Homo sapiens: one gene and its partners. The protein of the gene in region 2 interacts with the protein of the main gene of each other region in a pairwise test. Each region holds a gene or a part of one and is shown on either strand. Other genes may lie near its edges. The genes, in order: CLK2, LUZP4 and HSF2BP.

Region 1 (3,500 bases), on a different chromosome or scaffold from region 2:
TTTACACAAGTATGTGGAATCAACAGCTATGAAGTACCTCCTTGTTGGATGGCTGATGGGCAGATGGGAGCTCATCAGACAACCCCCCTTCCCCCATCTCTCTTCTCAGCCTCTGTGTCCAGATGTTTGACTGGTTTGACTACCATGGCCACATGTGTATCTCCTTTGAGCTTCTGGGCCTTAGCACCTTCGATTTCCTCAAAGACAACAACTACCTGCCCTACCCCATCCACCAAGTGCGCCACATGGCCTTCCAGCTGTGCCAGGCTGTCAAGTGTGAGTGGGGTGGGCCGAAGTGGACTCTGGGGCAGTCCCTCCCTTCATTGGATCTCTCTGTCGGTTGTGCACTGGTGAAGCCCCTAAACAGTCAGCTGTCTGTTATCTGCAGTTCTTTGATTTACTGTCATCTTGAAACGTCTTCTGACTTAACTCCTTGACTGATGTCTTTATCGTCACTGATTGCTCTTACTCTACACCTAGCCTAGCAGCAGCTAGAAGAGAAAGCCTTTGGAATCAAAGCACTTAATTACCCTCCCCTTTTCCTTTCTCCCTTTCTTGGGAAAGCATCAGTCAGACAGCAAACATAAAGAGACAAAAATACACTCCTTAGGGTAAAGGCTTACATTTGTCTGGGATGAGATGTTCATTCACAGCAAAGGAGATGGGAACACAGAGTATGTAGTTCAGCTAAGGGGCAAGGTGGGGAATTCAAAGAAATATATCATTCCTCTGGAGTCATCAAAATAATACAGTTTCACAGAATTGAGTTAACATAATGCCAGCTAGACACATGTCAAAGTGTGTACACACTACAACTCAAAGCAAACTTTTTTTTTTTTACATCAGTTGAGCTACATATGTATCTTACATTAGAAAGAGCAGAGCTTCTTAGACCAGGCATTCCATTTAGACGTAGAGCAGAAAGCAGCCCTAGTGATTCTGGACCTGTCTCCTCACTGGCTTTGCCCTAGGTAACCAGGCCTGGGGTCAGCTGATACCAGTTAGCTCTGGCCACCTGCACCAAGCCTGACCTGGCCTTCTCCCCTACAGTCCTCCATGATAACAAGCTGACACATACAGACCTCAAGCCTGAAAATATTCTGTTTGTGAATTCAGACTATGAGCTCACCTACAACCTAGAGAAGGTAAGATGGATAGGGTCTGCCCTTGGTTACTGGGGGCAGGCAGCTGCACCACTTTGCCTTCTGCCGAGCCCTTTGTTTTCTCCCTTTTATTTCGTCCTCCCACATTTTCTCCCTGTCTGGCTCCAACTGGGTAAAACTAAATAGGTTGAAAGGGAGAAATCTCTTAAGAAGACTTAAATTGGGAGATAACTTGTACAGGGGACTTCAGATAACTTTCCAGTAGAGTGAAAGTTTTTAAGGTTCTTGGTTTGGACTTTATTTATTTATTTATTTATTTATTTATTTATTTATTTGAGACAGAGTCTCACTCTGTTGCCCAGACTGATGTGCAGTGGCATAATCTCGGCTCACTGCAACCTCTACCTCCCAGGTTTAAGTGATTCTCCTGCCTCAGCCTCTGGAGTAGCTGGGATTACAGGCACCCGCCACCACGCCTGGCTAGTTTTTGTGTTTTTAGTAGAGATGGGGTTTTGCCATGTTGGCCAGGCTGGTCTCGAACCCCTAACCTCAGGTGATCTGCCTGTCTCGGGCTCCCAGAATGCTGGGATTACGGGTGTGAGCCACAGTGCCTGGCCCGGACTTCTTTTTTGAGATGTGTATTTCTGTGAGGTAGGAAAGCTCGGCTCCTTTGACTAACTGGAGATAATGGAGATCTCAGACCTAAAGAAGCTCTCCCTCCTTTGACCCCTTTGCTACATGTTACATATTTTTAGAGAAACTCCTTTGCTACATGTTACATTTTTTCAGAAAAACCCATTTGCTACATGTTACATTTTTTCAGAAAAACCCATTTGCTACATGTTACATGTTTTCAGAATAACTATATATCTGGCACTTGAGTGTAGTCTTCAGATGCTTACAGATGTGCACGCTGTTCTATAATCATTTCTTAATCCTTTTGCTCCCCTACTTCTAAAAGTATTATGCTGGATGTGGTGGAAGCTGTAAAACAGGAATTTCCCAGGGCTTGTAAGGCCAGGCAGGAGATCACAGTACCTTTTTTAAGGCTCAGAAGCAATGTAGAGAATACTGGTGGAATCTCAGTCTGGGTGCAGAGGTTCATCCTCTTTCTCCTCTGCTCCTAGAAGCGAGATGAGCGCAGTGTGAAGAGCACAGCTGTGCGGGTGGTAGACTTTGGCAGTGCCACCTTTGACCATGAGCACCATAGCACCATTGTCTCCACTCGCCATTACCGAGCACCAGAAGTCATCCTTGGTAAGGGAGGGCAAGGCTGTCCAAGTGTGTGAGATGATGTGAGGGTGGGGCCACCTAAGCCTCATAACACCTTTTCCCTCCCATTCTCACCCAGAGTTGGGCTGGTCACAGCCTTGTGATGTGTGGAGTATAGGCTGCATCATCTTTGAATACTATGTGGGATTCACCCTCTTCCAGGTAAGTGATGGGATGTCTTACTTGACTGCCTGGCATTCTTCTACCTGGTTCCTTTGTTTTCTGCTGAGGACCTGCCTACTCAGTTCTCCACATTGCCTGCCTTCCTGGCAGCTGATCCTTAGCATGCCCTTTTCAGTCCCATGCTCAGTTCTGTTTTTGTTTCCCAGACCCATGACAACAGAGAGCATCTAGCCATGATGGAAAGGATCTTGGGTCCTATCCCTTCCCGGATGATCCGAAAGACAAGGTGAACCTTGAGGGGGCACTAGTTAACTCTTTTCCTTTTCTCTCCACAGAATTGGTCTATTTCACATCATTTTCTTTTTTCTTTGATACCTCCTCTCCCCCCAGTTACTTTCAGATGGGGAAATAAGGGAATTGTAACAAGGGTGACCTTCTGATTCCTCAACCTCCCCTTCCCCTCTAGAAAGCAGAAATATTTTTACCGGGGTCGCCTGGATTGGGATGAGAACACATCAGCTGGGCGCTATGTTCGTGAGAACTGCAAACCGCTGCGGGTGAGCTGGGCTCGGGATAAATAGTGCCCACCGTCCAGAAGTCACTTCCTTCTTAGGGTGGTTTGCCCCCTGGAATGCTCTTCACAAGCAGAGGGTTAGGAAAGGAGGGGAGGAAAGCTGAAAGAAGACATCTTTGGTCAACAGAGGAAACATAAGAGGGAGTGGTTTTGTGGAGGGAAGGAGGTTAGACAGCCTAACCTTGAGACAACCAGAGATCAAAGCAATGTCCTGGATTCTTTAGGTCAGACAGAAAAGAATAAACTACCTTTGAAGAGCTTACATTTTAATGAGGAACTAAAGAAGATTCATGAAGTTGACAAGGATATACAAGTAGAAAGAACTTTCAAAGATTATGGAGTAATTGTGCTAGTGGGAAGGTAGGTTGAGCTATAATATCAGAAACGTTGGTCCTGGTGTGGTCGTGGTTAGGTAGCCTTCAAATTGG
Region 2 (4,295 bases):
CAACAGATCGAGGAAAGAAAGAAAAAAGAAAAGAAAGAAAAGAAAGAAAAAGAAAGGAAGGAAGGAAGGAAAAAAGGAAGGAAGGAAGCAAGGAAGCAAGGGAGAGAAGGGAAGGGAAGGGGAGGGGAGGGGAGGGGAGGGAAGGGAAGGGAATAGCCGGGTGTGGTGAGGGAGGAAGGCCGAGGCGGGTGGAAAGAGAGAAGTTAGGAAGAAGGAAGGAAGGGAGGGAGGGAGGGAGGAAGGAAGGAAGGAAAAGAAAGAGAGGAAGGAAGGAAGAAAGAGAGAGAGAAAGAAAGAAAAAAAGAAAGAAAGGGAAAAGAAAGAAAGAGAAAAAGAAAGAAAGAAAGAAAAGAAAGAGAAAGAAAAGAAAGAAAGGAAGAAAGGAAGGAAGGAAAAGAAATAACCAGGTGCGGTGAGGGAGGGATGCCAAGGCAGATGGAAAGAAAGAAGTTAGGAAGAAGAAAGAGAGGGTGGGAGGGAGGAAGGGAGGGAGGGAGGAAGGAAGGAAGGAAAGAAGGAAGGGAGGGACAGAGGGAGGGAGGGAAAGTGTGGGCGCTGTGGTATGAGGGTAGCACAGACGGGTAGATCACTTGAGCCCAGGAGACCAGCCTGGCCAACATGGTGAAACCCTATCTCTACTAAAAACACAAAAATTAGCCAGGCGTGGTGGCGCGCTCCTGTAATCTCAGCTACTTGGGAGGCTGACGTGGGAGAATCGCTTGAACCCCAGAGGCGGAGGTTGCAGTGAACGGAGTTGGCGCCACTTCACGCCAGCCTGGGTGACAAAGAGATACTGTGTCTCAAAAAAACAAAAAACAAAAAACAAAAACGAAAAGAAAGACAGAAAAGAAAGCGTGTGGCATTGCAAACCTGTGAATCCTCCCTAGATGTTAAATTTGTGCTCCCTCTTGGAATTTGAGAGAAGCAGAGCATCAGCCCATTAAGTCAAGATTATAAGGTTTTATTCGCCATGAATGTCAACAGCAAAGAGGAGAAATGGGTCCTAGGAACTGTGAAAGGCAAGGGCCGGAACACCACATACACTAGAAACTTGTAGCCAACTACATAGTGCTCTAGGTGGAGAGAATATTTTTAGAAAGGGGTATCGGGTGGGAGATGGGCGGGTCTTTCCTTTTTTTTTCTTCTAGCGAGCCAAGCTCCTGATAGGAGACTTGGTGAGGGGTAACGCCAAGCTCCACCCCTTGGGGCTTAGCAACACCGAAGGGAGAGGCTATGATTGGAGGATCAGGTTAGTCCACCACTCTGCTCCTCCTGCGCGGTGAGGGGGTGGTACACGCGCCCTACCTCGGAGTGTGTGGCGCCATGATGCAGGGAAGATGGCTTCGTTTCGGAAGCTAACGCTTTCTGAAAAAGTGCCGCCAAATCATCCCAGTCGGAAAAAGGTTAACTTCCTAGATATGTCTCTAGGTATGTAGATCTCGGATCCCAGTCTCCACTAGTTTGGGCTCACTGGTCTTGAGCGCAAGACCTCGGCATAGCGCTTACTAGAAGTGGCGTCGGGAGGAACACACCAGTTCGAGGAGAGGCTTCCCCTTCAGGGCATCTCCGCACCTGCCCCACCCTGACGAACCCTGGGACCACTTGGCCCCTATCCCTCCTCTCCTCTTTTTCTCCTCACCTCCAGCCCTCTCCTTTCAGGTGGGGAACTGAGGGAGGCTGACCAGAAGCGCGTGGGGATTAAGGATTGCTGAAAGGGGCAGGCGGAGAAAATAGACCGCTATTAACGTGTATTTTACTCTCCTAAGAATTGATACCTAACTACTGGCCTCCTTCAAACACATGGAGCCAAGTGCTCTTCTCAGTCCAAGCGGATGTCATAAATCACTAGATTCCAGGGCCCGGAGGAGCAAGCCTTAGGCTATTTTACTAGGGATCCCGGCGTGGTAGTGCTAGGAGTTGTTGGTGGGTTGGTGTATCTGCTTTGTTGGCTGGTGGTTATTCGAAGGGGTGGTTGGTCCATTTATTTGCTTGTTGGCTGGTGGTTATTCGCTCTGGATAGCCTTTCTTTGCTGGCGCTCTCTAGTCTCTAACCTGAGACCTCTACACGGAGAGTGGAACCTTAGAAAAAAGAACTCCTTTATCAAGGCCCCTAACCTCCTCCATTCGCACCAAACCCAGAAAAAGTGGATTTTACTTGGACCAGTTCCTCTGCTATTATCCATCTTAGAAATGGGGGAGGAGGGGAGGGAATAGACTTTCCAAGCCAGATAGGGAGTGAGCAGAGCTGAGTAGAGAGGATGGAAGCTGACTTTAGAAATGGAGAAGGGCATCAGAGCACGGAAGAAGGAAACTGTAGAAATGGGGGAAGGAGGACAAAACAGAAAAGGGCTACTTTAGTTAGGGGTGTGTGTGTGTGTGTGAAACGTGCTTGCTCTGTTTCTCAGGCAGGTGTGCAGTGGCATCATCTTGGCTCAGTGCAGCCTCCGCCCCCTGGGGTCAAGCGATCCTCCCACCTCAGTCGACAGAGTAGCTGGGACTACAGGCACGCGCCACCACACCTGTCTAGGTTTTTGTTTTTTTGTTTTGTTTTGTTTTGTTTTTTAGTAGAGCGAGGTTTCACCATGTTGCCCAGACTGGTCTCCTGGTCTCAAGTGATCCGCCCTTCTCGGCCTCCCAAAGTCCTGGGATTACAGGCATAAGCCACCGCCCCCGGCCTAGTTAGTTATTTTTGAGATAAGGTCAGGGACTGTTGTCTGGGTTGGAGTGTAGTGGCACGATCACGGCTCACTGTGGCCTCAAGCTCTCAGGCTCAATCAAGTGATCCTACCACCTCAGCCTCTCGAGTAGCTGGAACCACAGGTGCTCACTACCATGCCCACCTAATTTTTAAATTTTTGTAGAGATTGGGTCTCCTTATGTTGCCCAGGCTGGTCTCGAACTCCTGGCCTCAAGCAATCCTCCCGGCTCGGCCTCCCAAAATGATGGGATTGTGGGCCTGAGCCACTGCGCCTGGCCAAGGGCCACTTTAGAAATGAGAGGGGGAGAGGCAGAGCAGTGGGAGCTGAGCTTCAATGTGGAAGCGCAGGAGTGGAGCAAGGAGAAGCAGGAACAAGGAGGGTGGACCTCAGAAATTGATGGAGCAGTGGAAAGAGGGTTCACCTTAGAGATGAGGGTAGGGGAGCAGAGCAGGGAGGGCTGAACTTTAAAAGGGGCAGGATAAGTGGAGGGAGAGTGTACCATAGAAATGAAGAGGGTCAGCTGGGCTTGGTGGCTCATTCATGTAATCCCAGCACTTTGGGAGGTTGAGGTGGGTGGCTCACTTGAGGCCAGGAGTTCGAGACCAGCCTGGCCAACATGGTGAAACCCCATCTCTACTAAAAATACAAAGATTAGCTGGGCATGGTGTTGCGTGCCTGTAGTCCCAGCTATGCAGGAGGCTGAGGCAGGAGAATTGCTTGAACCTGGGAGATGGAGGCTGCAGTGAGTTGAGATCGCCCCACTGCACTCCAGCCTGGGTGCCAGAGTGAGACTTCATCTCAGAAAAAAAAAAAAGTAATGAAATGAAGAGGGGCGCCATGGCTCATGCCTGTAATCCCAGGAGGCAGAGGTCAGGCTGGTCTTGGAACTCCTGACCTCAAGTGATACACCCACCTCGGCCTCACACAGTGCTGCGATTACAGGCGTGGGCCACCTCACCCGGCCTAAACTTTCTTTATAGTGTCCTTTGAAGTCCCGAAGTTTCAGAATTTGATAAAATACAATTTATCTGTTTTTTGTTGTTGTTCATGCTTTGGTGTCAAATCTAGAAGATCATGAAGATCATACCCTTGTTTCCTTCTGAGAGTTTTCTAGTTTTAACTCTTAAATTTACATCTGTGATCCATTTTGAGTTAATTCTTGTATATGGGGTGAGTTAAGAGCCAACTTCATTCTGTTGCATTTTGATGTCTAATTGTTCCAACACTACTTGTTAAAAAGACTAATTTTCCTCCATTGAAAGCTCTTCTTGGTGGAATTGCTTTCTTAATTTCGTTTTTGGATAGTTCATTGCTGGTATATGTACATAGAATTAATTTTTGCATATAGATCTTGTATCCTGCAGCCTTGCTGAGTGTGTTCATTAGTGCTAATCTCCGTGTGTGTGTGTGTATCTTTAGGAATTTCTGCATACAAGATCATGATATCTGAGAACAGAGATTTACTTTTTTCTAATCTGCTTGCCTTTCATTCTTTTTCTTGACTAATTGCTCTGGATGGAATTTCTAGCAAAATGTTAATTAGATGCGGTGAGATTGGACATCCTTGACTTGTTTCTGATCTTAGGGAGAAAAGCT
Region 3 (3,718 bases), on a different chromosome or scaffold from region 2:
CAGATCACCTGAGGTCAGGAGTTCAAGACTAGTCTGGCCAACGTGGTGAAACCTGGTCTCTAACTAAAAATACAAAAATTAGCTGGCGTGGTGGCACACACCTGTAATCCCAGCTACTCGGGAGACTGAGGCAAGAGAATCGCTTGAACCCAGGGGGCAGAGGTTGCAGGGTTGCAGTGAGCTGAGATCATGCCACTGCACTCAAGCCTGGGCAACAGAGTGAGACTCGGAAGAAAGAGAGAAAGAGAGACACAGAGAGAGAGAGAGAGAGAAAAGGGAAAGGAAGGGAAGGGGAAGGGAAGGGAAGGGGAAGGGAAGGGAAGGGGAAGGGAAGGGGAGGGGAGGGGAGGGAAGGGAAGGGAGAAGGAAGGAAGAGAGAGAGAGAAAGAAAGAAGGGCATGCAGAGACAGTAGGGTGCTCCCTCAAGACCGAATAATCAGCCAGGGAGATAATGACAGACAAAATCAGGGGCCGAGATAATGACAGATAAAATCAGGGGCCCTGCACTCCCAACAGCTTATAAAGTAAAATGGAAATAAAACCATGTGTCTGAAGGAAGCATAGGGTACCATGACAACATTTCAAAGGAAGATTGATCATGTCGAGGTAGTCAGATTAGGCAGTGACTCTGAGCCGGGGCTGTGCCCAATAATATAAAGCCTTTTAAGCCGTAGTATGGTTTTGCTTAGGTTTTTGGATGATAATGAGTCTGGGTGGGGTTTTTAGGTTTTTGCTCTTTATCCTAAAAACAAAGAGAAGCGTCTGAAGACTTACGCAGGTGAATGGCATCATCAGATTGAACTGCCACAAACTACTCAGGCTACAGTGTGTCTGAGGGACTGGAGAGTGGCAGTGAGGAGACCGCCAGGAGGAGGCAGAACACAGCAGTGGAGACAGACGCAGGCTGATGATTCAGGATGCATCCATGAAGTAACACTCACAAGACTTACTAGCGGACAGGTTTCATGCGGAGTAGTGAGGAAGAGAGACAGGTAACAAGGAAGACTCCTGGGTCTCTAGTCTGGGTGTTGGTGCTCTGGGGAGACTGAGGCAGGCCAGTGTAAGACAGGGGCAGGGAACAGATAGCATGAGGCAGATATGACAACAGGAAGTAAAAATCAGCTTGCACCGAGAAAGCAAAAGTCTGTCCTGACTTCTGTCAGGCTGGAATAACAAACACAGATAAAGTCAGGTGCCAAGTTAACAGAAAATATCTCTCAAAGACAATGCAACTGTAAAGTGTCATAATGACCTCTTCTTTGAGTGACTGCTAACTTCTTATTCACTGAGAAGCCTTATTCTGTAAAATCCCAGACTCGCACAAATTTTGTTCTTTGAAATTATACAAGTAAGAAGATCCCACTCTTGCCTGCAGGATCTAAGTCACTGTGACACAGAAAAGAACCCTATTTCCAGCTACTGCAGAGCTTCAAGTAAGGGATTTCTAGAACAATGTTCCACGTCTATTTGAACGTTGTAGTTTTCAAGGAAACGGGACCTGGGTCCGCTTCGCAGTCAGACTTAATATTGGTCCCTTTAGACACAGTTCTATTTTGCTTCATTTATGCTTCACCTAATACCACTCTGTCTCCAAGTCCTACAACAACTCTATCCTCTTTTTTGTTGACATGCCCCACAGTTTCTCGGTGTTCTGGTATGGTCTTCCTCACTGCAAAGAGCCATAAACCTCACTCTGTCAGACTGTGGGTCTGTTCCTGGCGACCTTAGACTGATTAGGCTAGGGCAGACATTTAGAATTTGAAATAATCATGAAACAAGCAGGAAGAAATGCCAAGTCGGAGTCAGGCACAAGGCCGTGAGCTTGGAGAGTTCTGGGCTAGAGAGTAAATCCAGCAGCCACTGGCATCAAGACGGTAACTGAAGCTGTGAGTGTGCATGAGACTGCCTAGGGAGAAGCCATGGGGTGAGGCAATGAGCGGGGCCTAGGCCTGAGTCTCAAGCCCTATTGGAAGGCTGCAAAGCAGAGAAGGATAAATTTCAGCAAAGGGGAATAAGCAGGAATTGCCAGAGAGACTATGGGGAAAAAGGTGACTCTATAGCCTGGGAAAGGCCGGGACTATGAGATAAGATCTCCCAAAGGCAGACTGTGATCAAGTGACCACAGATTTGTTTGTGGCCCTCACTCGGTTTGATTTTGGCAGCGGGACTGATCACTAAAGACACTCATGTTAACTAACTCATGAGACCCTGATGTATTTTTTAGAATGCCAGTTTATTAATTTACAGTGAGAATATAACCAACCAGCAGGCTGCCATACGCTGCTACTGGTGTATGCCTATTTACCTTCCTTTCCTGAAGATAAATGCACAAGGAATGACTAATCTCAGAAAGTTGCTGGATGAGCATGAAATCAAAACTAGAGAAATTAGAAGTCAATGACCTGGCATTCTGGCAACCAATGACACGCCATGTATCTGGCAGAGTCCCAGTGGGAAAGAGAAATCAACCCAGATGTTGAGACTTTTCTGAAGGGACCACTTACAGAGGGGAGAGCAGAGATAACAGAACCACCAAGGGACAGCGAGGTACCCAGGGACTAGCAACAGCCCTACAGCCACAGGAGCAGGGGCAGTCCAGCAAGAGCTAGGACTACGGAAGAGGCCTCTAGACAGGAGTCTCTGTTGTGGAGGGATGCAGCTACTGCCACAAAACAGCAGCAAAGCAGGGAGGGAGCAGGAAGAAACACCCCAACCTCTCTCTCCACCCAGCAATGCCTTCCATTGGTGAGCCCCACTGGCAGCCAGCAAGGGAACCAGGAGAGCCCCATCTGTAGGGATCTACCTCCCAGAGCACACCACAGGGCAGAGAAGACTGGATCCAAGGACTTCGGAGAGAATATAAACAGGACAAGGTACGGTGGATGAGAACTGTCCCTTCTAACTGGATGTGGCTGGCCCACTGACCAGATACGTTTGCACATGCCAGAAACTCATATTCTCGGGGTGAGCTATCTTCTTGTCTGGACAAGTGCTACAGCTACCTGGGCCCCCTGGATGCACCTTTTCTAGAGGGCACACAGGGAGGGATAACAACCAAATGTCATGCAGTAAATTGGCCTTTACCGTCAAAGGCTGATTTAATCATGATTTGGCCTCAATCAAGCAAGTGCTGAGACAATCTCAGAGTATGTCCAGGAACTTCAATAGGCTCCTAAACTGGTATTCAACATAACAGCTCAGCTCAAATCTCAAAAGTCTGAATGGACACCAGAAAGCCTAAACTTCAATCAGTTCTAGATACTGGCTCACCCATCCACCTAAAGATAAGTGAACACACTTCCAGCTATCTCTACTGACAAGTAAACTCCATGCAAGGTTTCCATTTGGCAAGATCCTTAACTTACACAGTAAGTACTTAATTTTCAGAATAGAGCTTTTCAGTTATCAAAAGTATAAAATTCTTCTGCCAATGAAGAGAGAGAGAAAGAGAAGCTGTTAATAGATGCTCAGAAAACTGGCAACCAACTTATACCAACTTACATATGTCCAAGTCACTACACTGAGGAAACCTCCCTTTCTTAGGTCATCAGACTCTCCCAAATATCATCACAAGGACTGTAAGAGTACCTTAAAATTCGTTTACAATTATTTACCTAGGGTAAATCTGCTAGAACAAATTACTGTTACCACCAATGACTGCTGAAAATGAAGACTCACTTTTTTCTACAATCTTTAATTTCTGGAAGCTCTCCAGCAC

Evidence for each region.
Region 1: the proteins of LUZP4 (region 2) and CLK2 interact in binary tests that used the Homo sapiens proteins (3 or more experiments, as listed by UniProt).
Region 3: the proteins of LUZP4 (region 2) and HSF2BP interact in binary tests that used the Homo sapiens proteins (3 or more experiments, as listed by UniProt).

Annotation. Positions count from the first base shown.
Region 1 is NC_000001.11:155,263,505-155,267,004, reverse strand, and holds part of CLK2 (dual specificity protein kinase CLK2), read left to right. Parts: intron 1-109; coding exon 110-276; intron 277-1,050; coding exon 1,051-1,145; intron 1,146-2,230; coding exon 2,231-2,360; intron 2,361-2,454; coding exon 2,455-2,537; intron 2,538-2,704; coding exon 2,705-2,784; intron 2,785-2,964; coding exon 2,965-3,055; intron 3,056-3,296; coding exon of another isoform or gene 3,297-3,326; exon of another isoform or gene 3,327-3,349; intron 3,350-3,500. UniProt on the Homo sapiens protein: Dual specificity kinase acting on both serine/threonine and tyrosine-containing substrates. Phosphorylates serine- and arginine-rich (SR) proteins of the spliceosomal complex.
Region 2 is NC_000023.11:115,288,423-115,292,717, forward strand, and holds the start of LUZP4 (leucine zipper protein 4), read left to right. Parts: upstream 1-1,292; 5' UTR 1,293-1,337; coding exon 1,338-1,428; intron 1,429-4,295. UniProt on the Homo sapiens protein: Export adapter involved in mRNA nuclear export in cancer cells. Binds and enhances the RNA-binding activity of the nuclear RNA export factor NXF1. Can restore mRNA export function in cells compromised by loss of mRNA export adapters.
Region 3 is NC_000021.9:43,652,909-43,656,626, forward strand, and holds part of HSF2BP (heat shock factor 2-binding protein), read right to left. Parts: coding exon 3,679-3,718; intron 1-3,678. UniProt on the Homo sapiens protein: Meiotic recombination factor component of recombination bridges involved in meiotic double-strand break repair.